Homo sapiens: one gene and its partners. The protein of the gene in region 5 interacts with the protein of the main gene of each other region in a pairwise test. Each region holds a gene or a part of one and is shown on either strand. Other genes may lie near its edges. The genes, in order: USP20, INPP5J, PAK6, COIL, HSF2BP, ZNF844 and IQCC.

Evidence for each region.
Region 1: the proteins of HSF2BP (region 5) and USP20 interact in binary tests that used the Homo sapiens proteins (3 or more experiments, as listed by UniProt).
Region 2: the proteins of HSF2BP (region 5) and INPP5J interact in binary tests that used the Homo sapiens proteins (3 or more experiments, as listed by UniProt).
Region 3: the proteins of HSF2BP (region 5) and PAK6 interact in binary tests that used the Homo sapiens proteins (3 or more experiments, as listed by UniProt).
Region 4: the proteins of HSF2BP (region 5) and COIL interact in binary tests that used the Homo sapiens proteins (3 or more experiments, as listed by UniProt).
Region 6: the proteins of HSF2BP (region 5) and ZNF844 interact in binary tests that used the Homo sapiens proteins (3 or more experiments, as listed by UniProt).
Region 7: the proteins of HSF2BP (region 5) and IQCC interact in binary tests that used the Homo sapiens proteins (3 or more experiments, as listed by UniProt).

Annotation. Positions count from the first base shown.
Region 1 is NC_000009.12:129,876,958-129,880,457, forward strand, and holds part of USP20 (ubiquitin carboxyl-terminal hydrolase 20), read left to right. Parts: intron 1-1,380; coding exon 1,381-1,483; intron 1,484-2,615; coding exon 2,616-2,687; intron 2,688-3,155; coding exon 3,156-3,316; 3' UTR 3,317-3,332; exon of another isoform or gene 3,333-3,500.
Region 2 is NC_000022.11:31,125,966-31,129,465, reverse strand, and holds part of INPP5J (phosphatidylinositol 4,5-bisphosphate 5-phosphatase A), read right to left. Parts: coding exon 3,456-3,500; intron 3,173-3,455; exon of another isoform or gene 3,091-3,172; coding exon 2,977-3,090; intron 2,854-2,976; coding exon 2,745-2,853; intron 2,546-2,744; coding exon 2,429-2,545; intron 2,110-2,428; coding exon 1,934-2,109; intron 1,692-1,933; exon of another isoform or gene 1,516-1,691; coding exon 1,404-1,515; intron 1,253-1,403; coding exon 1,143-1,252; intron 996-1,142; coding exon 812-995; intron 1-811. UniProt on the Homo sapiens protein: Inositol 5-phosphatase, which converts inositol 1,4,5-trisphosphate to inositol 1,4-bisphosphate.
Region 3 is NC_000015.10:40,245,563-40,249,062, reverse strand, and holds part of PAK6 (serine/threonine-protein kinase PAK 6), read right to left. Parts: intron 1-3,500. UniProt on the Homo sapiens protein: Serine/threonine protein kinase that plays a role in the regulation of gene transcription. The kinase activity is induced by various effectors including AR or MAP2K6/MAPKK6.
Region 4 is NC_000017.11:56,947,551-56,951,050, reverse strand, and holds part of COIL (coilin), read left to right. Parts: intron 1-54; coding exon 55-1,162; intron 1,163-1,283; coding exon 1,284-1,370; intron 1,371-1,616; coding exon 1,617-1,664; intron 1,665-3,500. UniProt on the Homo sapiens protein: Component of nuclear coiled bodies, also known as Cajal bodies or CBs, which are involved in the modification and assembly of nucleoplasmic snRNPs.
Region 5 is NC_000021.9:43,628,489-43,631,988, forward strand, and holds part of HSF2BP (heat shock factor 2-binding protein), read right to left. Parts: intron 1,967-3,500; coding exon 1,834-1,966; intron 1-1,833. UniProt on the Homo sapiens protein: Meiotic recombination factor component of recombination bridges involved in meiotic double-strand break repair.
Region 6 is NC_000019.10:12,071,231-12,074,730, forward strand, and holds part of ZNF844 (zinc finger protein 844), read left to right. Parts: intron 1-2,800; coding exon 2,801-2,927; intron 2,928-3,130; coding exon 3,131-3,191; intron 3,192-3,500. UniProt on the Homo sapiens protein: May be involved in transcriptional regulation.
Region 7 is NC_000001.11:32,204,278-32,208,470, forward strand, and holds the start of IQCC (IQ domain-containing protein C), read left to right. Parts: upstream 1-1,393; 5' UTR 1,394-1,404; coding exon 1,405-1,446; coding exon of another isoform or gene 1,447-1,686; intron 1,687-1,876; coding exon 1,877-2,020; intron 2,021-2,231; coding exon 2,232-2,484; intron 2,485-2,724; coding exon 2,725-2,843; intron 2,844-2,962; coding exon 2,963-3,805; 3' UTR 3,806-4,193. Other genes in the region: CCDC28B (coiled-coil domain-containing protein 28B), read left to right, coding at 1-102, 321-521.

The DNA of each region.
Region 1 (3,500 bases), on a different chromosome or scaffold from region 5:
AGAGTACCCTCCCTGCCCTGGGTGAGAACCACTGGGCTCTACAGACTGCCCAAGATAAAGCAGGAAGTGAAAACCAAGGTGCAAACCAGGACTCAAGTGTGACTGTGTTTAGAAGAGGGACTTCTGTGAGGGAGCTGAGTGCAGGCGAGGCTCCTGGCGCACTCCCTCCCTGCCACGCTACTTCTAACAGGGTTAGGACGTGTTCCACTCACAGGGAGGGCCTGGTGAGAGACACTGAGGGACGCCCGTGCTTTGTGGCCATTAGGAAATGATTCTGCTGCCTGGGCATGGTGGCTCACGCCTGTGATCCCAGCACTTTGGGAGGCCGAGGCAGGTGGATCACTTGAGCCCAGGAGTTCAAGACCAACTTGGCCAACATGGCGAAACCCCATCTCTACAAACAATACAAAAATTAGCCAGGCATGGTGATGTGTACCTGTAGTCCCCGCTACCTGGAGGGCTGAGTGAGTTGGGAGGATCACCTAAGCCTGGGAGGTTGAGGCTGCAGTGAGCCGTGATCATGCCACTGCACCGCAGCCTGGGCAATAGAGTGAGACCCTGTCTCAGAACACAAACGAAAAAGAGACTGTCAGGGCTGGGCCTAGTGGTATGCACCTGTGGTCCAACCTACTCAGGAGGCTGAGGTGGGAGGATCACTTGAGCCCAGGAGGTCAAGGCTGCAGTGAGCCATGATTGCGCCGCTGCACTCCCGCCTGGGCACAGAGTGAGACCACCCCCCATCTCGAAAAAGAAAATGCTCCTGTCAGAAGGAGAGCTGCCTCTCTGAGCAGATAGGCACATTCTATTCAACCGGAGAAAATTAGCATCTCCCAGGCCGGGCGCAGTGGTTCATGCCTGTTATCCCAGCACTTTTGAGAGGTCGAGGTGGGCGGATCACCTGAGGTCAGGAGTTCAAGACCAGCCTGGCCAACATGGCGAAACCCCGTCTCTACTAAAAACACAAAAAGTAGCCAGGTGGTGGCACACACCTGTAATCCCAGCTACTCAAGAGGCTGAGGTGGGAGAATCGCTTGAACCTGGGAGGCAGAGGTTGCAGTAAGCCGAGATCGCGCCACTGCACTCCAGCCTGGGTGACAGAGTGAGATTCCTTCTCAAAAAGTAGAATCTCCCTTGTGGTCTCAGTTGGGTCAAACAGTTATTGAAGAGACCCACAAAATGTTACCACCGTCCTCTCTGAGTGATGGGTGTGTTCATTTTGTTTGAGCTTGTCTGGGGGTTTGATTTTTCACCTTGAGTATCTGGTGTTTTTGTAAGACTCTTGGGTGAGGGACTGGGGCGGGGGCATTTGGGAAATCCTTGCTGAAGGTAAATAGAGACTGACCTGCCCTCTGTCTCCTCCCGTCCCTGCCCGCCTGCCAGTTGAACAAGGCCTTCCAGGCCGAGGAGTCGCCGGGCGTCATCTACTGCATCAGCATGCAGTGGTTCCGGGAGTGGGAGGCGTTCGTCAAGGGGAAGGACAACGGTGAGCTGAGGGGGGACCTGGCACTTACCTGCCCTGGGGGCCTCCTGGGAGATGGGATGCTGGCAGGGGAGGGCTGGCACACAGGGGCTCCTGCAGGCCCCATGCCTGCCCCCAGGTGCCACCCATCCAGGGTGAACAGAGAGCATGGGGCTTTGCCAGTCCCCAGTGGGGATCACTGTCCCCACCCAGAGGCAGGAAGCTGCTCCTGCTCTGCGCCCCCTGCCCTTCTCCACTCCCTGCCATGCCCAGCAAGCTGCTCTGCCCTCCTGCAAGGCCCTTTCCTCAGGGGAGTGTGTCGCCCGAAATGACAGATTTGTCATCTGACTCCTTGGATTTACAGAGGTGGAGACAGGCCCCATCACAAGCTCCCAGGGTCCCCCAAGTCCCCAGTGAAGAACAGCAGAACCAAGCCATGGAAGCCCACAGGCTCTAAACTATTAAACCTGCATTAAAAATTTCGGCTGGGGCGCCCTCGGGGCATAATCTAACCTGTGGCTCCGGGGCCCGGCAGGGTGGGTAGAGCCCACGGTTCTGCTCACGGGACCCTTGGTGTGGAGCATGAGCACCCACCTGTGCTTGGGAAGGGAGGCCTCATTGCCATCCCGCTAGTCGGGGAAGGTGCCAGGGCCACCGTGAGGCCTCTCTGGTGGTGGCTGAGGCCTTCAGCATGGCTGTGGTTGAGAATGTAGCTCCGGAGCCCTCGCCCTGGCCTGGACGCTGGCCTTGCCTTCTACCAGCTATGACCTGAGTGGTTACTTCACCTTCCCAGGCCTCGGCTCTGTCTCTGTAAACCTCTGTCTTGTCCTGTGGTTGCCGAGGCTAAATGAGATAGCTGGGCAGAGGGGAAGGGGCGTGGTGAGCGGCAGCTGCCAGCAGAGATAAGGGCATGGGCCATCCACCGCAGCTCCTGCGGCCAGCACAGAGTCTGAGACCATCTCGTGTGTCCTGGAAATTCCCTCTGCTGGGTCCTCAGACTGCCACAGAGGAGCATTGGGTGGCTCAGGCGCCTCATCCATTAGAGACTTCACGCTGACCCCCAGGCCTGGGGCGGCCCCACTTGGGATGGCTCTGCTGCTGTGGAGGGTGGAGGGCATGGCAGGGGCTGAACCCGAGCCCGCTGTGTCTGTTGCAGAGCCCCCCGGGCCCATTGACAACAGCAGGATTGCACAGGTCAAAGGAAGCGGCCATGTCCAGCTGAAGCAGGGTGAGTTCCCCCTGGGGTCAGCCAGGCTCCTCTCTGCCCTTCCTGGCTGCCAGGCTGCTGCCCAGTCCCGTCCTTCCAGGAGCCCCCTTACCACCTGTCTTAGAGTCAGGCTGAGACGTCCACCTGAGTCCAGACCCAGGCGGCTGAGAGATGGCCCAAGGGGCTTGGTCTCTGCTTGTGTCCTCCAGGTCCCACCCCTCTGCCTGCTGCTGGCCTTGCCCACCCTGCTGTTTATGTCAGCCCCACCCCCAGGAACAAGGGACACAGCCAGAGATGTGTTATCCGGGGCCCTTAGCGGGATGGACATTCCTCTGGGAAATCCTGATTTCCATCTGACAGCTTTGCATAGAAGCCCTGGTTGCCGTCTTCCCGCTTCGGGGCCTGGCCCTGCGGAGCCCCCACTGCCCAGGCCGGTGGCTTCCTTGAGGAGGCAAAGGTGAGCCTAGGGGTGCCTCTCGTGCCCTGCAGGAGCTGACTACGGGCAGATTTCGGAGGAGACCTGGACCTACCTGAACAGCCTGTATGGAGGTGGCCCCGAGATTGCCATCCGCCAGAGTGTGGCGCAGCCGCTGGGCCCAGAGAACCTGCACGGGGAGCAGAAGATCGAAGCCGAGACGCGGGCCGTGTGATCTGCTGGGCTAGTCTGTAAGTCGCCCCGGCTGGTCCCTCCATGGCACTCTGGGTCCTCTCCTCACTCTCCAGAGACCCTCACATGTCCTTTTGAACATCCAAAGAGCAGGTCCCTGAAAGCACCTTCCTGGAGGATGTGGGAGGGCCCTGGACATGGCCCGGCCCCACTGCTGAGTGCCCGTG
Region 2 (3,500 bases), on a different chromosome or scaffold from region 5:
CAGTTCAAGACCAGCCTGGCCAACACGGTGAAACCCTGTCTCTACTAAAATACAAAAATTAGCCGGGCATGACGGCGGGTGCCTGTAATCCCAGCTACTTGGGAGGCTGAGACGGGAGAATCGCTTGGACCCAGGAGATGGTGGTTGCAGTGAGCCAAGATTGTGCCACTGCACTCCAGCCTGGGGCGGCTGAGCAAGACTCCGTCTCAAAGAAAAAAAAAAAAAAAAAAAAAGTTGGCCAGACACGGTAGCTCACGCCTGTAATCCCAGCACTTTGGGAGGCCAAGGTGGGTGGATCAGGAGGTCAGGAGTTCAAGACCAGCCTGGCCAACATGGTGAAACCCTGTCTCCACTAAAAATACAAAAATTAGCCTGGCGTGGTGGCGGGTGATGTAATCCCAGCTACTCAGGAGGCTGAGGCAGGAGAATCACTTGAACCCGGGAGGCGGAGCTTGCAGTGAGCTAAGATCGTGCCACTGCACTCCAGCCTGGGTGACAGAATGAGACTCTGTCTCAAAAAAAAAAAAAAAAAAAAAAAGAAAAGGCATGGGCTCTGAAACCAGACTCACTTGGGTTCAAATCCTAACTGTTCCTCTTACTAGTTGGGTGACCCTGGGCAGGTGATGCCATGTGTCTGAGCCTCAGCTTCCTCATCTGAAAATGTAGATTGCAACCCCATTTCCACTGTTACAACAAATGGATGCTGCTGAGGGCAGGTACAAGGGGTTATACAAAGGGTAATGGTGAGGGGCAGTGGTATGCCGAGTTGGGCCTGGGGATTTCATGCGGGGAGGATGAGGCCAGAACTCACCTGCAGGAGGAACTGGGCAGCCACAGGCTTGTGGTCGCTGACTGTGTATTCCATGTGGCTGCGGTAGCTGTGCTGCGTCACCTGGAGTCGGTGGCTCTTCCGTCCTGAGGGGCTGGGACCCCCACCTGGAGCCTTGACCTTCCATAGGATACGGTCTGTCCAAGCTGGCTTCCGTTTCTTGGCACTGCAGTGAGCAGGGGTACCCCAAGTTTCAGGGGCTGGGGATCAAGATGTAACCCTCCACCTTGCCTCCTGCCCCTCTTCCCAAAGTCTCCCTGTTCGAGAAGACCTCAGCCCACTTCCCCTCAGTCCCTCCTCGGACTGAGCTCACCTGGTATCGTATTTGTTGGTACCCACATCAAACTTGAAGGTGGGAGCGAAGTTGAGGGGCCCCTCCTGAAAGCCCTTCAGAATGGGCCAGGTGTTCTTGGCCATGTTGAGCTGTGGGGGGTCCAGGAGAGCAGATTGGACAACAGCTTGGGCTCTGCTGTGCCCAGGGAGGGGGTGGGGCAGGTGAGGACAGGGACCATAGTCTAAGGTACAGGCGTGTCCTGGGACATGCTCTGTGTGCTTCTGGGGACAAGGACCCCACCTGGTCCTTCTCCCAGAGCTGATGGAGCTGGTCACTGTCGATGGCAAACTTGACAAAGTGCAGGTCATAGCTCTCAATGCGGAAGTTCAGGTCCCCGAACCAGAACACGAGGCTGTTTGGGGTGGGGGATGGGAGAGATGTGGGGGGCAGTGGGGGGTGTCAACAGGTCCATGGAGGATAAGGGCTCAGCCCAGATCCTTCCAGCCCATCCAACCCGAGGGGATGTAGTGAGTGGGTGAGTGGTGCCAGAGCCTCCAGCCCACCAAAGGGCAGAGGAAAAGCAGAGGGACCGGTCTACAGGAAATTAGGTTCTGACCTTCAGCAAGGCGGGGCCCCTCAGCAAAGCTCCACCCTACAAGCTCCGCCCCTCCCCATCCAACTGCTCTCTGCTTTCGTGTTCCTACAACTAGTTTGGGTGGGCACTAAACCCCATAGGCCCTGCCTCTCTCCATAAGCCCCACCCAAGGTGGTACAAAAACCCCCATCACTAGCCCCACCCAAGCTCTATTTGGCCCCACCCCAGCCCATACTCATGATCCAGGATGCCCTGTGCGCCCGGCCCTTGGAACTGCTGGAGGCTGAGGATGGTCTGGAAGTTGTCTTTGCGCTGCTCCGCCTTGTCCATATGCGCAGGCAAGTGGCAGTTCAGGAAGCAGAGCATGTGCCCGAAGGCCGCCAGGCGCACGCTCACGCCACCCTTGTTACCCTAGGGAGGCAGGGTCGGATGGCTCATGGGCGGGGCTTAGGCCAGGAGGTGAGGCACTGGGAGCGGGGGTTAGAGAGGAGATGTGGGTGGAAGGTGGGTGGGTCCTACAGAAATGAGGAACAACGCTGGGACACAGTGGGGAGAGAAAAGGGCGGGGGTATAGAGGAATAGGATGGGGTATTGGGTGGTGCATGGGGGGGCTGGGCCGCAGGGTAAAGGGTGGAGGATGGGAAGGGGACCTTGCTGTGCATGGGGCGGGGGGACTAATCTAAAGCCCCCTTCATGTCCCATCCTCTTCTGGGCCTGCTCACAGGCTCACCCAGTAGCCGCCCAGGCCAGTGCGCGTGCAGTCGGTCTGCACGTCTCGCAGGAAGGGCAGGTGGTAGTACTTGGCGAACAGCAGCAGGATGACACCCTGCATCCTCACCGAACTCACCTGCAGCGGGAGGCCACGTGGCTGGGGGACAGAACACAACTCCCCCGCCCTCGCGCCCACCTTCAGGTCTGCTCCTCCACCCACCCATGTCACGGACCCAGCCACAGAGGCCCAGCGGGCCCCACAGTGAGCCAGGGTACAGCTGGAGCCAGGAATTCAGCAGGGTCTCTGGCTGTCCAGGGGGTGAGGGGTGCGTTACCAGCACGAAGTTGAAGGGCCCTAGCGCATCCATGAACAGCTCACTCCACTGGTCCGTGAAGAGGGCGTCCTTGAGTCGCTTGTTGAGCATGGAGTTCACTTCCTGCAACCTGGAGGGGTGGGGGCAGGGTGGCCATGGGATTGGAGAGGTGCCCTGGAAGCCCCTGCCATGGGTGGAGGGCCCGGAAGGCCCGAGGGGCTCAGGAGGGGGTCCACATGCCCTGCCACCTCACCCTATGGCGATCATGTCTGCGCCGTCGCTGTCGTCACCACCGCCCAGGTGGAGGAGGGATGTGACATCGTCTGGGGGCATGGCAGTGCCCACGTTCCATGTGACCACAGTGATCCTGAGGGCAGGGGCATATGAGGGTGTAGTCCTGGCACCACTCCCTCACCCTCAAGCTTCCTTTCACAGGACTCCCTGGGGAACTAAATGGAGGCAGGTGTGGGCCAAAGCCCTAAGAAGGACCCACAGGAGGCCCCGAATCCTGTCCCTCTGCCACACTCTCCCTGGGGAGATCAACTGAGAGGCGGCAAGTTCCTTAGGAGGGGATGCTATCTTCTGAGCGTCACAGAGTGGGCCCAGCAACCCCCTCCCCAAAGACTCTTCCTCAGAGAGAGAAGCTGAGGTAGAGCACACCATCCACCCTGGAAGAATGGCTAACCTCAGAGCTAAGCCCCAGCCACCTTTCTTGGGAGAGGGCCCCCTCACCGGAAGCCGGGGTCGCTCTTCCAGGTAGGCTGAGCTGACCAAGGG
Region 3 (3,500 bases), on a different chromosome or scaffold from region 5:
CAGCACCTTGCTCTTGGGCTTCTCAGCTTCCAGAACTGTGAGAAATAAATTTCTGTTGTTTATAAGCCACCAGTCCATAGTATTTTGTTATCCAGTCCAGAAAGACTAAGTAAGCCAGTTACTGAGGGGAGGAGCTGGAATTTGAACGGAAGTGTATCCGACCCCAAAGCTGGTTCTCTCAACTCTGCTGCTTAGAGGCTGCTGGTGCCATGGAATGTTTGAACGGGCAGTGGGGAGAGACCAACTCAGACCTTAATATAAGGCATTTGTGTTTTAAAAAAATCACTGCCCAGGCAGGCTGTCACGTGAGACACAAGAGGGCTGGGGTGCGGGTAGGAGGACCGTCCCTTCCTATTTCTGTGTAACACGCGAGGACCCCCACATGGCACTGGGTGTGAGGGGCAGAGGGGCCCTCAGGTTCCCCCACTCTGTCACTGAGTTCCCTGCTAGGAATCAGGTGCTAGGCTTTCCTGGCCACAAGCCAGCACCCTGCCTGAAGTTCCTGCATCCCACATCTGCCCTTCACAGACCCAGATGGCCCAGTCGCCTCAGGCCCTCAAGCAGGACCTGCCGGGGAGGTGGGGGCACGTGTGCTGGATGCTTGGCAGGAGGAGCCCTGTGGAGCTGGGGCTCCTAGAGGGGTCGCTGCCCACTCACCCTGGAGCCCGAAGCCTGGGAGAGAGGCACTCTTGGGAGAAAATCCCTTCCTCCCCCTCTCCTCCAGGCTGTCCAGCACCTGCTTCTTCCTGCTCCTCACCCTGATGGGACCACCCATCTCTCTCTGCTGATGGGACCAAGAGGGAGGTGCAAACCTCTGAACCTCCGAGCATCTGGAAGTGTGAGCCGAGGGAGCTGACACTGCCAGGCCCTTGGGGTCCCCAGGCAGGAGGGAAGTTGACGGAGTCTAGCTGCAGAGCCATGGAGTCCTGCGGACGGGAGCCCTCTTGCCTCGCAAGACTTACAGCATGTCTCTGGCCTCAGTTTCCTGATGCATGTAATGGAAAGAGTACCTCCCGCCCTGGGGAAGGTGGTGGAATAATGAAGTCTAGAGCATTGGGGTACAGGGCTATGGAGGAGCAGCACCCCCAAACGGGGTGAAAGGTTCTTAACCCTCAGCCCTCACAGCTGCAGAAGGGACCAAGGAGAAAGCTCCCCTCCCCGACCCTGGGCATGCACACTGGAGCTTGGTTTGATGTGCCATGGAGTAGAATCCCAGGATTCGTCCAGAAAACAAGGCTACCACTTGCTACTAAATCAACCCAACAGGTCTGTTCACCCCGGGTTCCGGAAAGAGAGCCCAGCGCCAGGGGGTAGCACTGTCTAGGGCCTGGTTAGGTGTTTTGGAAAAGTCCATGGGTCCCCGCCCGGCTGCTGTACAGATGTGCCCTGCTGATACCCTGGGCCTCAGCAGAACCTCGAGCCTCTCTCTCTCTGCCTGCCTTTCCCTCAGGTTCTGCATCTGTACTAGGCTTCCTGTGCCAACGAGAATATATAAAACCATCCTCCCCAAACACAAGCTGACACTGGGGGCTAAACCTGCCTGACAGTCCCAAGGAGCCTGGTGACCTGGGAGGAGCTCCTCAGATGCAGGGACCATTGCAGGCTGCGGCGCCCGTCCCAGGTGCATCCTGGGCTACCCTGGGAAGGGCTGGGGAACAGCAAGAGCCAGATCTGTGGTAAGGACACTCATTTTAGAGACGTGATGGATTCATTTAATATCTTTTCGCTACAATTGCTTTGCAGTGCCTGCTCTTAATGGCCTCCAAAGTTCCATCCAAATATCTTTTGCTGGCAGTTTAGCTCTCTGGCTGGCATTTTTGCTGGCAGAACTAACAGCTGGATGCCTCCTTGAATGGGAAACTTTCATTGTCTTGTCTTCTCTCTTCTGAGTTTCCAGTGACTGCCCCAGGTCTGAGGCTGGAGCAGGGCTCTGACTGTGACACCCCTGCGTGGAGCCCAGTGGCTGACTTTCAGGAAGGACAGGTGAGTGTGGGGGAGTGGAGGCCTGTGCCTGACTAGGTGAGGGCCCAGGCCCAAGCTCCAAGGAAGAAAAGGGGATGTGAGGAAGCAGGGTATTTGTTGCCTGAGGCCCACCTCCAACACTTTGGGCAGAACACCTTAGCTCCAGATGCACAAAACTCACAGGCTCTGGGCTGTGCAGCCCCCTGGGAACACTAACTAGCTGGCCTCAGAGTCTGTGGACCTCTGCATGTGCCCTGGGTCAGAAGGCATGACCTGTCTAACTGCCACATGGCGTGTCTGTGCCATGCTGCCATCCTTCTCAGGGTCCTCTCTTCCCTAGCATTCTGGCACACACCGGACAGAACCCCTTGACTGCTGCAGGGGTGGTTGGCCTGCTGGGACATGTATTTGAACGCTGACATAGCAGGGTTCTGGTAACACCACTGCCACACCCTCGTCAGTGGCTGGTACAACAGCCTCTGCTAGGATGATGGACCTCATCATCCATGAGGCAGCCCCTCCTCCTGTCCTGACCACCCTCTCCTCGACAGGAGCCCTGAATGCCTGCTCACTGGCGGCCTTGCATTCTTCCCCCGGGGCTGGCTCCATCCCTCCCCAGGAGCTGAGACCTCTACTTCTCCCCACCTTTCTGGATCCCAGACACATCATCAGCAAGATCCACTCTAGTGGAATAGAAAAAGTCTTCTTGTCTAGCTTGGGCCTGGTGACCGGTGGCAAGTGACAGGCCTCCTGCTTCTGGGAACTGACCTCTGATGGTGGCTATTGGACATGTAAATGTCTGCCTGGGGTCAAAAGTCTACACTAATGAGAAGATCACCTGAAGAACAGGGCCTCCCAGGTGCCTCCCCTACCCTTTGCCCCAGAATCTCCGTTTCATCTCTGGCACTCATCATGACTCCCTTCTTTGGCCTAAGACATGAAGTTACCTGGGACAAAAAGAACTTCAATCAATCAATTTATAAATTAGTTAGATCTCTTCAACAGAGAGTGGCCTGGTCCCCAAGAGTGGCCTGGGTGCTGTGTGCAAAGTTTATCCTCGGGAAGCACTTGACTGACAAGCGTGGGCTGGGCTGTGGTTTCAGGTCTAGCAGAATGCAGGGGGATGGCAGGAGGCACCCAAATAGCACAATAGGAGCAAAGCGGGGACCTGCCCAGCCTCCCAATGTGTCAGGCCAGGCCGCCTCTCCCAAGCCATCAAGTTACCCAGTGGCTGCTGCCTGCTCCTGCATGGGCCCCTTGGTAGCACGGGGGTGGGGGTTCAGCCTGGGTAGCAAGAGTGCTGGGCAGGCAGCTGGGGATCCCTGGGCTGGAAACTGACTCTGCCATTAGTTAGCTGTGTGGCCTCAGGACCCACTTTCCTTCTCTGGACCTCTGTTTCCCGCTCTAAAATTATGGGGGCTGGACGAAACATCCTCCGGGGACTCCCTTTGGCTTGAATGTGCTACAGCAATCTGAGATGGCCAGCTCTTTCCTGGGGCAGCCTTTTCCTCCTCAGAGCTCCTCTTTGCTGATCTGAG
Region 4 (3,500 bases), on a different chromosome or scaffold from region 5:
GGAGATGTGTTTATAAATTGCTCACTCTAGCTTTCTCTCTTGTTCTTTTGACAGAGTTAAATTAGAAGAGAGAGGAGTTGCTGAGAATTCTGTAGTCATCAGTAATGGTGACATTAATTTATCTCTTAGAAAAGCAAAGAAGCGGGCATTTCAGTTAGAGGAGGGTGAAGAAACTGAACCAGATTGCAAATATTCAAAGAAGCATTGGAAGAGTCGAGAGAACAATAACAATAATGAGAAGGTCTTGGATCTGGAACCAAAAGCTGTCACAGATCAGACTGTCAGCAAAAAAAACAAGAGAAAAAATAAAGCAACCTGTGGCACAGTGGGTGATGATAACGAAGAGGCCAAAAGAAAATCACCAAAGAAAAAGGAGAAATGTGAATATAAAAAAAAGGCTAAGAATCCCAAGTCTCCGAAAGTACAGGCAGTGAAAGACTGGGCCAATCAGAGATGTAGTTCTCCAAAAGGTTCTGCTAGAAACAGCCTTGTTAAAGCCAAAAGGAAAGGTAGTGTAAGCGTTTGCTCAAAAGAGAGTCCCAGTTCCTCCTCGGAGTCTGAATCTTGTGATGAATCTATCAGTGATGGTCCCAGCAAAGTCACTTTGGAGGCCAGAAATTCCTCAGAGAAATTACCAACTGAGTTATCAAAGGAAGAACCCTCTACCAAAAATACAACTGCAGACAAACTGGCTATAAAACTTGGCTTTAGCCTTACCCCCAGCAAGGGCAAGACCTCTGGAACAACATCTTCCAGTTCAGACTCTAGTGCAGAGTCAGACGACCAATGCTTGATGTCATCGAGCACCCCGGAGTGTGCTGCGGGTTTCTTAAAGACAGTAGGCCTTTTTGCAGGAAGAGGTCGTCCAGGCCCAGGGCTGTCATCACAGACTGCAGGTGCTGCTGGATGGAGGCGTTCTGGCTCAAATGGTGGTGGACAGGCTCCTGGTGCTTCTCCCAGTGTGTCTCTCCCTGCTAGTTTAGGAAGAGGATGGGGTAGAGAAGAGAACCTTTTTTCTTGGAAGGGAGCTAAGGGACGGGGCATGCGGGGGAGAGGTCGAGGACGAGGGCATCCTGTTTCCTGTGTTGTAAATAGAAGCACTGACAACCAGAGGCAACAGCAATTAAATGACGTGGTAAAAAATTCATCTACTATTATCCAGGTAAGTATTATTTTTTGTAAGTTATCTCCTCCCTTTCCCCTTAGAATGTGTGTGGAGTTCATGTCATGGATTCACATTTTCTCACCAGTGATGATGTCACATGACTAACACTGTTTTTCAGAATCCAGTAGAGACACCCAAGAAGGACTATAGTCTGTTACCACTGTTAGCAGCTGCCCCTCAAGTTGGAGAAAAGATTGCATTTAAGGTATATTTCAAAAGAACAGTCACAGCAAAAAAGGTTCATTCCCCTTCCAAATAAACTTACTTAGAAAATCAGGTTAAATGTGTTTGTAAAAGCCCTTCCCACTGGAACCCCAGTGTTGTTACGGGTTCCTGGTAGGGCTCCCAGACTGGTCGGGGTGGACACGCCAACATGGCATGATGGAGGAGCTGTGGGAATGGGAGAGGATAAGAGGGCTTATGTATTTGTGGGTTTTTTCTTCTTTTTTAGCTTTTGGAGCTAACATCCAGTTACTCTCCTGATGTCTCTGACTACAAGGTAAGGATGTTTATTTAAAAGTAAGTTGTCAGTGTATTATTAAAACTAAAGTCATATTTAATACTACTTGTATGGATAATACAGATTTGTTTTTTTACTAAATAAAAATGCCAGAAAGTAGAAAATGAAAACATTAATCGAAATGTCAACTCTTTAATAGTATCACTGGGAAGTCTCCCTGTGTTATTTGCCTTATACTTGGGAAGAATAGAGTAGGAGAATGATGAGCTTAATTTTTACTTTTTTAAAAAAAATATATTAATTTTTTGTTTTTAAATAGCGACAGGATCTTGCTATGTTGCCCAGGTTGGTCTCAAACTCCTTGGCTCAAGCAATCCCCCCATCTTGGCTTCCCAAAGTGTTGGGATTACAGGTGTGAGCCACTATGCCCAGCCAGTTTAATTTTTTTAGTTACTTTTTTCTAATTAGTTTAGACCAACTTATTTGGGTATTCATTCCTTCATGATTCTAAACTTTGAAAGAAAATAATAAATAGTTCTCAGCAAGAAGATTTGATTATTTTCATCATGGGAATCTATTTTACATATTTGTGAATTACTTCTGGTTGTTATGATCTAGTATGATTTCTTCTGCATTATCAGGTAACCACAGGTAATTCATAAATATTATCCGTGGAATTTACTTACTTAATATCTGTATGAGTCTTTATATTGGCATGTGAGGTTTTTCATAGTTCAGTAAAAGCTTGACTCAGTCAGAGGGATCACAGAATTACATGTTTCTTTTTCACCCACCAACATTTTGTTGAAAATCTTGTTAAAGTGCATTCTTTCTTTTTTTTGATGTACTATATGGAATGTAAGACCATTTTTTAAGGTAATAATTGGTAGTGTTAATATAGTAACATAGATAAAATACAAGGGAATTTGATTTAATCTGGATTGATGCCTTGGAAGACTTAAAATCTTTATAGAAACCTTTCCTCAAGGCTGGGCTTGGTGGCTCCCACCTGTAATCCCAGCACTTTGGGAGGCCAAGGTGGGTGGATCACGAGATCAGGAGATTGAGACCATCCTGGCTAACACAGTGAAACCCCGTCTCTAGTAAAAATACAAAAAAAAAAATTAGCGGGGCATGGTGGCGGGTGCCTGTAGTCCCAGCTACTCAGGAGGCTGAGGCAGGAGAATGGCGTGAACCCGGGAGGCAGAGCTTGCAGTTAGCTGAGATCACACCACTGCACTCCAGCCTGGGTAACAGAGCGAGACTCCATCTCAAAAAAAAAAAAAAAAAAAATCTTTCCTCAAAAGCAGGCTGGAAGAATCAGTTAATGAAGGGATCTGGTGGGTTAGTTCTAGGTCGTTGGTGTTTTGTTTTTTATCTTCTTAGGCACTTACTATCTCCTATGGATGAGGTGATCATGTAATTTATCACCTGAATCAGGATACTTGTGAGTCAAAGGGATGCTATTAATAGTTATGCTGGAAAGATGTACAGACCTGTCTTGAACAAACCAGGGTGTTTTGTCACCCTACCATAGAAAACATTTAATTGTGTGATATATGAGGAAATGGAAATGAATATTGTATTGATACATCCCACAACCTCTATAAATTGTAATTCTAGATGATACTGATTTTTAAAAATTGCTTATTAATGGCCAGGCACAGTGGCTCATGCCTGTAATCCCAGCACTTTGGGAGGCCAAGGTAGGTGAATCACTTGAGGTCAGGAGTTCGAGACCAGCCTGGCCAACATGGCAAAACCCCATCTCTACTAAAAATATAAAAATGAGCCTGGCATGGTGGCGTGCACCTGTAGCCCCAGCTACTCAGGAGACTGAGGCACAAGAATCACTTGAACGCAGTAGGTGGGGGT
Region 5 (3,500 bases):
GCAGAAGAAAAGCTGGAAGCTAGTACAGGTTGCTTCATGAGGTTTAAGGAAAGAAGTTGTCTCCATAACATAAAAACAACGTGCAGCAGCAAGTGCTGATGGAGAAGCTGCAGCAAGTTATCCAGAAGATCTAGCTAAGATCACTGCCGAGGGTGGTTACACTAAACAAGAGATTTTCAATGTAGACAAAGTCGCTTTCTATTGGAAGAAGACGCCATCTAGGACTTTCACCGCTAGAGAAAAGTCAATGCCTGGCTTCAAAGCATCAAAAGACAGGCTGACTCTCTTGTTAGGGGCCAATGGTGCGGGTGACTTTAATTGAAGCCAATGCTCATTTAACCATTCTGAAAATCCTAGAGCCCTTAAGAATTATGCTAAATCTACTCTTGCCTATGCTCTAGAAATAGAAAAACAAAGCCTGGATGACAGCACACCTGTTTCCAGCATGGTTTACTGAATATTTTCAGCCCACTGTTGAGACCTACTGCTCAGAAAAAAAGATTTCTTTCAAAACACTACTGTTCATTGACAATGCACCTGGTCAATCAAGAGCCATGATGGAGAGGTACAAGGAAAGTAATGTTGACTCCATGCCTGCTAATACAATACCTATTCTTCAGCTCATATATCAAAAAGAAATTTCAACTTTCAAGTCCTATTTTTTTTAAGAACTACATTTCATAACGCTACAGCTGCCATAGACAGTGATTCCTCTGATGGATCTGGGTGAAGTAAACTGAAAACCTTCTAAAAAGGATTCACCATTCTAGATGCCATTAAGAATATTCATGATTCAGCCAAGCGCAGTGGCTCATGCCTATAATCCCAGCACTTTGGGAGGCTGAGGTGGGCAGATCACCTGAGGTCAGGAGTTCAAGACCAGCCTGGCCAACATGGAGAAACCCCATCTCTACTAAAAATACAAAATTAGCTGGGCATGGTGGCGCATGCCTGTAATCCCAGCTACTTGGGAGGCTGAGGCAGGAGAATCACTTAAATACAGGATGTGGAGGCTGCAGTGAGCCGAGATCACGCCGTTGCACTCCAGCCTGGGCAACAAGAGAATATTCATGATTCATGGGAGGAGGTCAAAATAACAACATTAACAGGAGTTCGGAAGAAGTTGATTTCAATCCTCATGGATGACTTTGAAGGGTTCATGACTTCAGTGGAGTAAGTAACTACAGACGTGGTGGCAGAAAAAAAGGATAAGTTGCTTCTTATGGAAGAACAAAGAAAGTGGTTTCTTGAGATGGAATCTACTCTTGGTGAAGATGCTAAGACATTGTTGAAATAAGAACAAGAGATTCAGAATATTACATAAACTTAGTTGACAAAGCAGCAGTAAGGTTTGAGAGGGCTGACTCCAATTTTGAAAGATGTTCTACTGTGGAAAAAATGCTATCAAACAGCATCACATGCTACTGAGAAATCTTACATGAAAGGAAGAATTAATCAATGTGGCAAACTTCATTGTTCCTTATTTTAAGAAATTGGCACAGCCACCCCAACCTTCAGTAACTACCACCCTGATCAGTTAGCAGTCATCAATATCACGGCAAGACCCTCTACCAGCAAAAAATTGTAACTTGCTGAAGGCTCAGATGATCATTAGCATTTTTAGCAATAATGAATTTTCTAATTAAAGTTTGTACATTTTTTAGACATAATGCTATTGTACATACAACAGACTACAGTATAGTGTAAACATAATTTGTATATGCACTGGGAAACCAAAAACATTCATGTGACTCATGTATTATTGCAGTATTTGCTTTACTGCAGTGGTCTGGAAGCAAACAGGCAACATCTCTCAGGTGCGCCTGCACTTACTCGTGACAATTCCAGCCAGAGCGAAAACAAACTGACTTTCATCCGAATCCAGCTCCTGGACATCACCGTCTAACGACTTCACAAAACTCTCCATTGTTTGACCAGTGATGCTGAAAAACTTCAAAGCTTTATCCTGAAAGTTTGAAAATCAGAGTGTCATATCTTTTTACAGACACTAGTGTGAAAACATTTTAAAAGTGCAGGATACAGAAGATTCTAGTTTTAATTGTAGAATATTGTAAAATCTATTCCCTCATTAAAAGTTCCCATTAAAAGAACAGAGAAAGCAGCTTGAGGCATGCAGGAGCAACAAAAACTACCCTGAAGATTGGTGGACTCTTCACACGCATAAATATGATATAGGACAAATGTACATGATGATGAAAGTAAATGGGAAGAATTCACTCAAAATGTAATAAAAATATACTAGAAAAACATGCTGCCTATTTGCTCTGGGCATTAAACCAGAGGTGTTCAAACCTTTAGCATAACTTTTTTCAAAAAAAAAAATCTTAATGAAAACATGTAAAAGAGGTAAAGACTGGCTCCTCTGGTAGTTTAAATCTTCATCACTTGGCAAAAAGCATTTCCAAGTTTGAACCTTTGAGTTACTTCCTTTGGGGTGCTAGAGTTCTGAAGAAGAATTTTAAAACCAATGTACATTTTAACCCAGTTAAAAAATTGGAAATATTTGCATTTACAAATGATATAAGAAAACTTCATGGATGATCAAATAATCTAAAACTGGGTTGTGGTGATGGTTAATGCAACTCTAAAAATTTGCTAAAAACCACTAAATTGTACATTTACAATCTTACAGTATGTAAATTAAACCTAATAAAGCTCAACAAACTTTTAAAAACACATTTAGTCTTTCCACCTAAAGTCAAACACAACTGTTATTTCTATTAGCAGTAACTAATTTCTCACTGGTTTCCTGCCACACGTCCCCCTCTTCACCTTCATTTCCAGTCATGATCACGCCATGCTCCCAGAGTCAAACACCGATCTTTTTTGGCTCCTCTTGTCCCCTCCAGGTGCCCACTCTGCCCGGCCATCGCATCTGCCTCAACTGCCACAGCTCTCATACATGTTCCTTCTTTCCCATCTCCCCTGCAGAGGGCCGAGCTCACTCCAGCCAGACCAGCTAGAATGACCACCTCATCAGTCATCCTGTGTAGACGCGATGTGCCACAACTCCACCTCCTAATCCATCCTCACCCACTGTCAGGTGAATCTTTCTAAAATTCTGCTCTTATCCTATCACTTTTATTGAAAAACCCTTAGGGAAAATCCAGTCTTCCCACCTACAGAATGAATCACCAACCTGGTATTCAAGGTCCCAAAGTCACATCCCAACCTACGTTTAAGCTTTACCTCCCCACTACTCTATGACATTAACTCTCCACTGTGTCAACTGACCTACTCACTGTCCTAAAACAAACCCACCCATTTTCTGCCATTTCTACCTATTCATCAAGGCCCATTTCAAATTTATCCCCTTCTGTGAAGTTCCCTGACAAATGCCTGCACGCATGCATACATGTGCGTGTGCACGCTCCCACACACACACATGCTCCCACACACCCACACGCTCCCACACACACGATCCCACATACACAGGCTCACAGGCACACACACTCCCCCCCCACACACGCTCCCCACAC
Region 6 (3,500 bases), on a different chromosome or scaffold from region 5:
GTATTTTAATTGCTTACCATTTTTTTCCACAAAGCAATAAGTGGTGGGTATATTCAACCCATTTTCCATGTGCCCCGAGAATACTCTTGTCTCTAATCCTAATGTAACATCATATACGTTTTTGTTATATTAGGATTAGAAACAAGTTCTGTTTAGAAATTTTATTTTCACATTGAAAGTCAATCAGATTTGCTTCAGCTTTAAAGAGTATGCTTGTGTAAAATTCAATGAATGCTGGCAGCAAGCTGCACTTTTTTTTCTAAATGGGAAATGGGTTAAAAATGTATTACTTTATGAATACTGTTCATGAGAGGAAAGCACTCAATAACCACTAAAAACTACATTATATAAATCCTTGTGCCTGATGACTCCTGGTCCACTGACGTTTTCATGAGCTTCTTGGCCCTTTTCATATATCTTGCAGGAATGTCATTCAGATACTTTCCCTATCTTTCAATCAATTAGGTTTTTTTTTTTTTTTTACTTGGTACAATAATTTATTATTGTAAAAAAATTAACATTTATTAGCTTTAGGAATTTTACATGTACTGTTGAGTTAGTTTGTCAAATCTATATAACTCGTCTAAGATGAATAATACTGTATTTTTGTGACTGGCCTTTTGCAATCAGTATAGAATCCTGAATTTTTTTTCTTTTTTTTTTTTTTGTTTGTTTGAGATGGAGTCTCACTCTCTCACACAGCCTGGAGTGCAGTGGCATGATCTTGGCTCACTGCAACCTCTGCCTCCTGGGTTCAAGCTGTTCTCTGCCTCAGCCTCCCAAGTAGCTGGGATTCCAGGCATCCACCACCATGCCCAGCTAATTTTTGTATTTTTAGTAGAGATGGGGTTTCACCATCTAGGCCAGGCTGGTCTTGAACTCCTGACCTCGTGATCCACTCTGCCTCGGCCTCCCAAAGTGCTGGGATTACGGGCATGAGCCACTGCATCCAGCTGAATCCTGAATTTTCATGCTTTTTGTAGCATGGGACAGAAAGTTATTTTGTAAGACTAAATACTATCCCATTGTAAGTACATGCATACCACGTTTTCTTTATCCATTTAGCCATCAGTGGACATTTGGATTGATCCATCTCTTGGCTATTGTGAACAGTGGTTTTCAAATATTTCTTCAAAGATCCAACTTTCAATTTATATGAATTGAATATAAATAGACCCAGAAATGGGTTGCTGGAAGAAAATTTTTTTTTTTTTTGCTAGTTTTTCAGGCACCACCATACTGTTTTCCATAAAGATTGAGCCATTTTGCAATCCTTTGGTCAGAGCACATGGGTTCCAATTTCTCAACGTTTTTTCCAAACTTTATATTTGAGGTGGTTTGATTTTTCTTTTTTCTTTTTCTTTTTTTTTGAGATAAAGTCTCAGTGTTGTTGCCCAGGCTGAAGTGCAATGGCGCGATCTACGCTCACTGCAACCTCCGCCTCCCAGCTTCAAGCAATTCTCTGGCCCCAGCCTCCTGAGTAGCTAGGATTACAGGCACCCACCACCATGCCTGGCTAATTTTTTGTATTTTTAGTAGAGACAGGGTTTCACCATGTTGACCAGGCTGGTCTTGAGCTCCTGACCTCAGGTGATCCACCCACCTCGGCCTCCCAAAGTGCTGGGATTACAGGCATGAGCCACCGCGCCTGGCCTTGATTTTTCTTTTCTTTTTAGTTGAATGTAAGAATTCATTATATTTTCTGAATATTGAGACTTTTCCAGATATATGACTTTCCAATATTTGCTCCAGCATCATGGGGTGCCTTTTCCATCTGTTTATGGTGTCCCCTCATAGACAGAACTTTTAAATTTTGATAAATATTTGCCTTTTTGTTAAGAGTGGGTGCACTGGAGTTTTTATCCCTGAACTTTGTCTCCATTCAGCCTTCAGCATTTCATCAATTACAATTTAAGTTTTCCTACCACAGTCTGCTTTTTTTTTTTGAGACAGAGTTTCGCTTTTGTTGCCCAGGCTGGAGTGCAATGGTGCGATCTCAGCTCACCGCAACCTCCGCCTGCCAGGTTAAAGCAATTCTCCTGCCTCAGCCTCCCGAGTACCTGGGATTACAGGCATACACCACCACGCCCAGCTAATTTTGTATTTTTAGTAGAGACAGGGTTTCTCCATGTTGAGGCTGGTCTCGAACTCCTGATCTCAAGCGATCCGCACGCCTCAGCCTTCCAAAGTCCTGGGATTACAGGTGTGAGCCACCGCGCCCGGCCCACAGTACTGTTTTTCACAAAATTTCTATTCATGAGTTTTTTATTTAGATAGTTCTGCCTCTCTTATCAGTTGGGTTGGTTGAACCCCTTGCAAAATCCAGTTTTTTTTTTTTGCTTTTGTTGTCTGCTGCTTCAATCAGAATAAAATCCCCCTTCCAGGTAATCTTCAATGGTTAAACTTTGTGAACAGGCATTTTCAAGGATATATAGCCTCAGGACTGCTAATGTTAACATTTTCTGCAGGTGAATTTAGAGGACTGTGTTATGACAGGTGCTATAGACCCATGCTACAAACAGACATTAAGAGCAGCCCAGGCAGCGCACCTTTCTCCCTGGATTCCATGAAAAGACACATTTTTCTATTCTGCTGTTCGTTTATTGCTTAGTTCTGTTCCAGCATCAGAATTGCTTTAGAGAAGAAAGTAAGTGTAGACAGAGAGTAATGGGTCAGATGACCAAGAAATAGAATAAATGTTTGGAGTCCACAGCATCATGGGAACTTCTTAGGAAGAGGGTATAGACCCCCAGTGCTGTCAGTCTCACCCATCCTCCTCTATACATGTGGGATGTTTCAGGACTTGGTGGCTTTCGAGGATGTGGCTGTGAACTTCACCCAGGAGGAGTGGTCTTTGCTGGATCCTTCCCAGAAGAATCTCTACAGAGAAGTGATGCAGGAAACCTTGAGGAATCTGGCCTCCATAGGTAAGAATGACAGTATTACGTCCCCCAGTGAATGAGACAAGTGTTTCTAGCTCATTAATGCTATTCCTTGATTTGGAATATGGACAGGCAATACTTTGATGAATAAATGAGGTATGGCTCTAATGTCCCGTGAACATAGAATCTAATCATTTTTTCATAATTTTATTTTAATTCAGGATTCTTTTTCTGATTCTGTATTTTAGGAGAAAAATGGAAAGACCAGAACATTGAAGATCAGTACAAAAATCCCAGGAATAATCTAAGGTGATTTAAACTCACGAGACAAAGCAATGTCTCTCTAGAAAATCTCAGAATGCGAGAATATGTTAAGAAGAAGCAAATAAAGGAAATATGCCTAGCATTAAATTTATTTACTCTTAAAATATTCACTCTAAAAACCTACATTTAAATGTGATCTAGGCTGGGCACAGTGGCTCACACCTGTAATTTCAACTGTTTGGGAGTTGGAGGTGGGAGGATTGCTAGAGGCCTGGAGTTTGAGAAGAGCCTGAGCAAAATGGCGAGACTTCATCTCAAACAAAGAACTAGCTATACATTGTGGCATATACCTGT
Region 7 (4,193 bases), on a different chromosome or scaffold from region 5:
GAGGAGGACGATGAAGAGGAAGAGGATGGGGTCACTGAGGGGCTGCCAGAGGAGCAGAAGAAGACAATGGCTGACCGTAACCTGGACCAGCTGCTTAGCAATGTGGGTTCATGTCTGGGTGCTTTGGTTCCTGGGGGCATGAGGGGTGGAGAAGGTACATACTCCCAAAGCCATTCCTGGGCCCTGGGTGAAAAGGTGGGAGTGCATGGATCCAAGAGCTCTGGGCCCCTCAACCTCCCCAGAAGATAGCCCCCAGAGCATTGGGGATTTGGCCTGGTTCCCCTCCTAACAGAAGCCTCCCTTTTTCTCTTTGTTGGCAGCTGGAAGACCTCAGTAATTCTATGTATCCTTTCCAAGGAACCCGTCTATGTGTGTGTGTTCCTGAGAGGTCAGTTTCCTCCTCTCCAGCCCTCCAGGAGTATTCACACACAACCAACTTCCCCACCTCTTGCAGTCCTGTCAGATTTAGCCACAGACTGCCCAAACCCAGGTACAGGAATTTAGAATTTCCCCAAAATTAGAAGAAAAGTGGTTGTAGGGGATGTTTTACTACTGATCAAAATCTTTGTGAGTACTTTAGCTGACATCAATCATAGCAAAGCTTGTCCGATGTCCTCCTATCCTTTCAGCATTGAACAATTATTTTTACTAATTTACACTACCACCTCACCTGGTCCTCAGTCAGAAACAGCGCGAGTGCGCGCGCACACACCCCAGTGTGTCTGACCTGCACGATCTGGATGAAGAGAGAGGGGGTGAGAGAGGGCAGGCGGGGACTGCAACCTCAGTCCACAGACGGCCCGAGACCCTCGTCCCCGGCCCTTTGCACAGGTGAGGGAACTAAACCTGTGCAAGATGGGAGACCGGGGTGGGAGGAAGGACTGGTCCAAAGCGCCACGATCCTTGACGGGCACAGCCAGAAGCTGCACCTGGCCGAGAACGCCGAGCCTGAGGAGCAGTCCGCTGCGTAGGCGTCCCACGCAGGCCCACACTGCCCCTCTCATTCTCTTCAAACTGTGACTTTTTACAGACTCGGGCGGGTGTTCTGCGGCCCCCCAGGTGCTATGGGGGAGGGGGGCGTTGAATGGAATTAAACCAGAAAGAAAGCAAGCGGCTCCGTGTCCTGCTTCCCCTCCTTGCGCCTTTCCTCCCGGTCTCCGCGGAGACAGCCCTCGGTTATGGAGGTACCGCCTGCGGGATTGGAGTGCCCCTTGCGGCTGTGGGAGGGGCAGTCGGGGGCTGGGGGGACGCAGGTACGCCTGTCGCCAGGACGCCTCTACCCTGGACGGTAGGAGGTTGCCGTGGGAACGGCTGGGGCAAAGCCCACGCCCGCGCATGCTCAGGAGCGACGCCGACCAATGACGTACTTCGCAGGCGCGCGGGCGGGCCTGGCAGTTGGCGCCCATGGAGCCAGAGCTGCTGGTTCGGAAGGTGTCTGCATTGCAGGTGCGGGGGCGGGCGCGGGGTTCACAGGATTTTTCCTTTAGGGAAATCATGGGGTCTCGTACCTGGACCTCCCAGCGAGATGCTACCACGTTCAGTCCCCTAACTGCGCGCCAACCTCTGGAGATACCGGCTGTCCCCAACCGCGCTGAGGAAAGCTGGGACCCACGGACTCCCTGCCCTGCGCGTCCCCACTCCCACCACACGCTCGCGCCGGATCAGGGAAACGGGAAGAGCCTTAAGGCGAGGAGGGGCATCCAGTCTGGCATCGTCCCTCGAGCCCCCCGGAGCCCTAGCGCACAGCCCACCTATCCTTTCCCCGCCGTCAGGTCCCCTCTTGCATTCGCCGGGACGACCTCTTCAGGACAGTCCTCCGAGATGCCCCCTCTCTTACCGTGATAAGGGACTTCTTTCCTCTCGTTCTCCATACCAGGCCTGCGTCCGGGGCTTCTTGGTCCGACGCCAGTTCCAGAGCCTGCGAGCTGAGTATGAGGCGATTGTACGAGAGGTCGAGGGCGACCTGGGCACGCTTCAGTGGACCGAGGGCCGCATTCCCAGGCCGCGATTCCTCCCAGAGGTAGAACACACCTAGGAGAGAAGGGAAGGAGGGACTTGGGCAGGGTGGAACCCACCCTTCCCAGTGATAAGCTTTTCTCACTGGAAGAGGCAGTAGACTCACCTCCTCACACCCCACTCCTTAACCCTCACCAACTTGTCTGCTAGATCATGGTGCCCAGATACTTGGAAGGGTTTAGCCCTGGGGCTCTCACATCTCTCTTGTTTCTCAGAAGGCAAAATCCCATCAGACCTGGAAAGCAGGAGACAGGGTAGCAAATCCAGAGCAGGGGCTGTGGAACCACTTCCCATGTGAAGAGTCTGAGGGAGAGGCCACCTGGGAGGAGATGGTGCTGAAGAAGTCAGGAGAGAGCTCAGCAAATCAAGGAAGCCTCTGCAGAGATCACAGCTCCTGGCTTCAGATGAAGCAGAACAGGAAACCCAGCCAAGAGAAGACCAGAGACACGACAAGGATGGAGAATCCAGGTACCTCTCTGCAAAGATCAGGGCAAGCCCCTGACCCTCACTGTGCCTCAGCCTCCCATCTGAAGAGTGAAAGGCTTGCGCTAGATAAGCTGCATCCCTTTCCCGTCTTCCCTCTGCCGGGATAGGGCCACCACATGGTTGGGCAGTGCAGGGGAGGGAGTTTCCAAAGTCTAAGGCTAGGCCATTTCCCAGGGTCTGGTCCCTCAAGGTTTTCTCCTTCCTTTCTTCCCTCCTTCACAGAAGCCACAGATCAAAGACTGCCCCACAGCCAACCTCAGCTTCAAGAGCTTCAGTACCACCGCAGCCACTTGGCCATGGAATTGCTGTGGCTGCAACAGGCCATCAATAGCCGTAAGGAGGTAACACTAACCTGGAACTCTTTCTGAACATTTAGGGTCAAGGGTGGGGGTTAGGGAGAGACGACCTGCCATGCCCAAGCAGGCCTGCTTGGTACAATGTATGTTCTCTCCCCCAACAGTACCTACTTCTTAAACAAACACTGAGATCCCCAGAGGCGGGCCCGATCAGAGAGGAACCCCGCGTGTTCCTAGAACATGGGGAACAGGCCTGTGAGAGGGACCAGTCACAACCAAGCGCACCACTGGAGGACCAGTCCTACAGAGACAGGACCACTGGAGAGCTAGAACAGGAGGATGACTCCTGTCACAGGGTCAAATCACCCCACAGATCCCCAGGAAGTTTGGCCACTACACAAAAAAACATTGCTGGGGCTAAGTGCAGAGAACCATGCTACAGCAAGTCTGGACCACCGTCGTCTATACCATCAAACAGCCAGGCCTTGGGGGACAGGCTCACCAAAGGGCCAGACGATGGAAGACAGACCTTTGGAGGGACCTGCCTGCTGCAGATGAAAATCCTGGAGGACCAGACCCCCAGAGGTTTAAAACCTAGGAACCATTGTCCCAGGAAGTCCAGGACACAGCTGTCTGCACTCTATGAGGACTCAAATATTAAGGAGATGTCTCCCAGAAAACTAGACCACAAAGAGCCTGACTGCCGAACAGTCAGGACACAAGAGTTGGGCCTCTCAGAGGACCACATCATCTGGGATGGTACCTTGGGGGGGCCAGAGCATAGTGTCCTCGATCTCTGGAGGACTAAACCACCCAAAGGCCAGGCCCCCACTGATAGAAGCTCCAGAGATGGAACCTCCAATGAGCCTAGTCATGAAGGACAGAAAAAGCAGAGGACTATACCATGGAGATCAAAGTCACCTGAGATTCTGTCTTCTACAAAGGCAGGCTGTACAGGAGAGGAACAGTGGAGGGGCAGGCCATGGAAAACAGAACCACCTGGCTAGACCCTAGGAAGCCAGGAGAGGATCAGGTTCCAAAGGGGAATGCTATGAAAGGGCAGTGAGACAAGACCTCATCCTACCTCCCTGACCAGCTCTGGCTTCTGCTCCTGCCCCTGGCCATTGGTGACTAGTGGGGCCAAGAGAAGCTGGAGCAGAGAGCTGGCATGAGTATAGGGAAGGAGGAAGGACACATTTTCAATCCTCTGCCTGTAGCTCAATCCAAATTTGTGGATAAGGGGCCGGGTGCAGTGGCTCACACCTGTAATCCCAGCACTTTGGGAGGCCAAGGTGAGTGGATCACCTGAGGTCAGAAGTTTGAGACCAGCCTGACCAACATGGTGAAATGAAACCCCATCTCAACTAAAAATATAAAAATTAGCCAGGCGTGGTG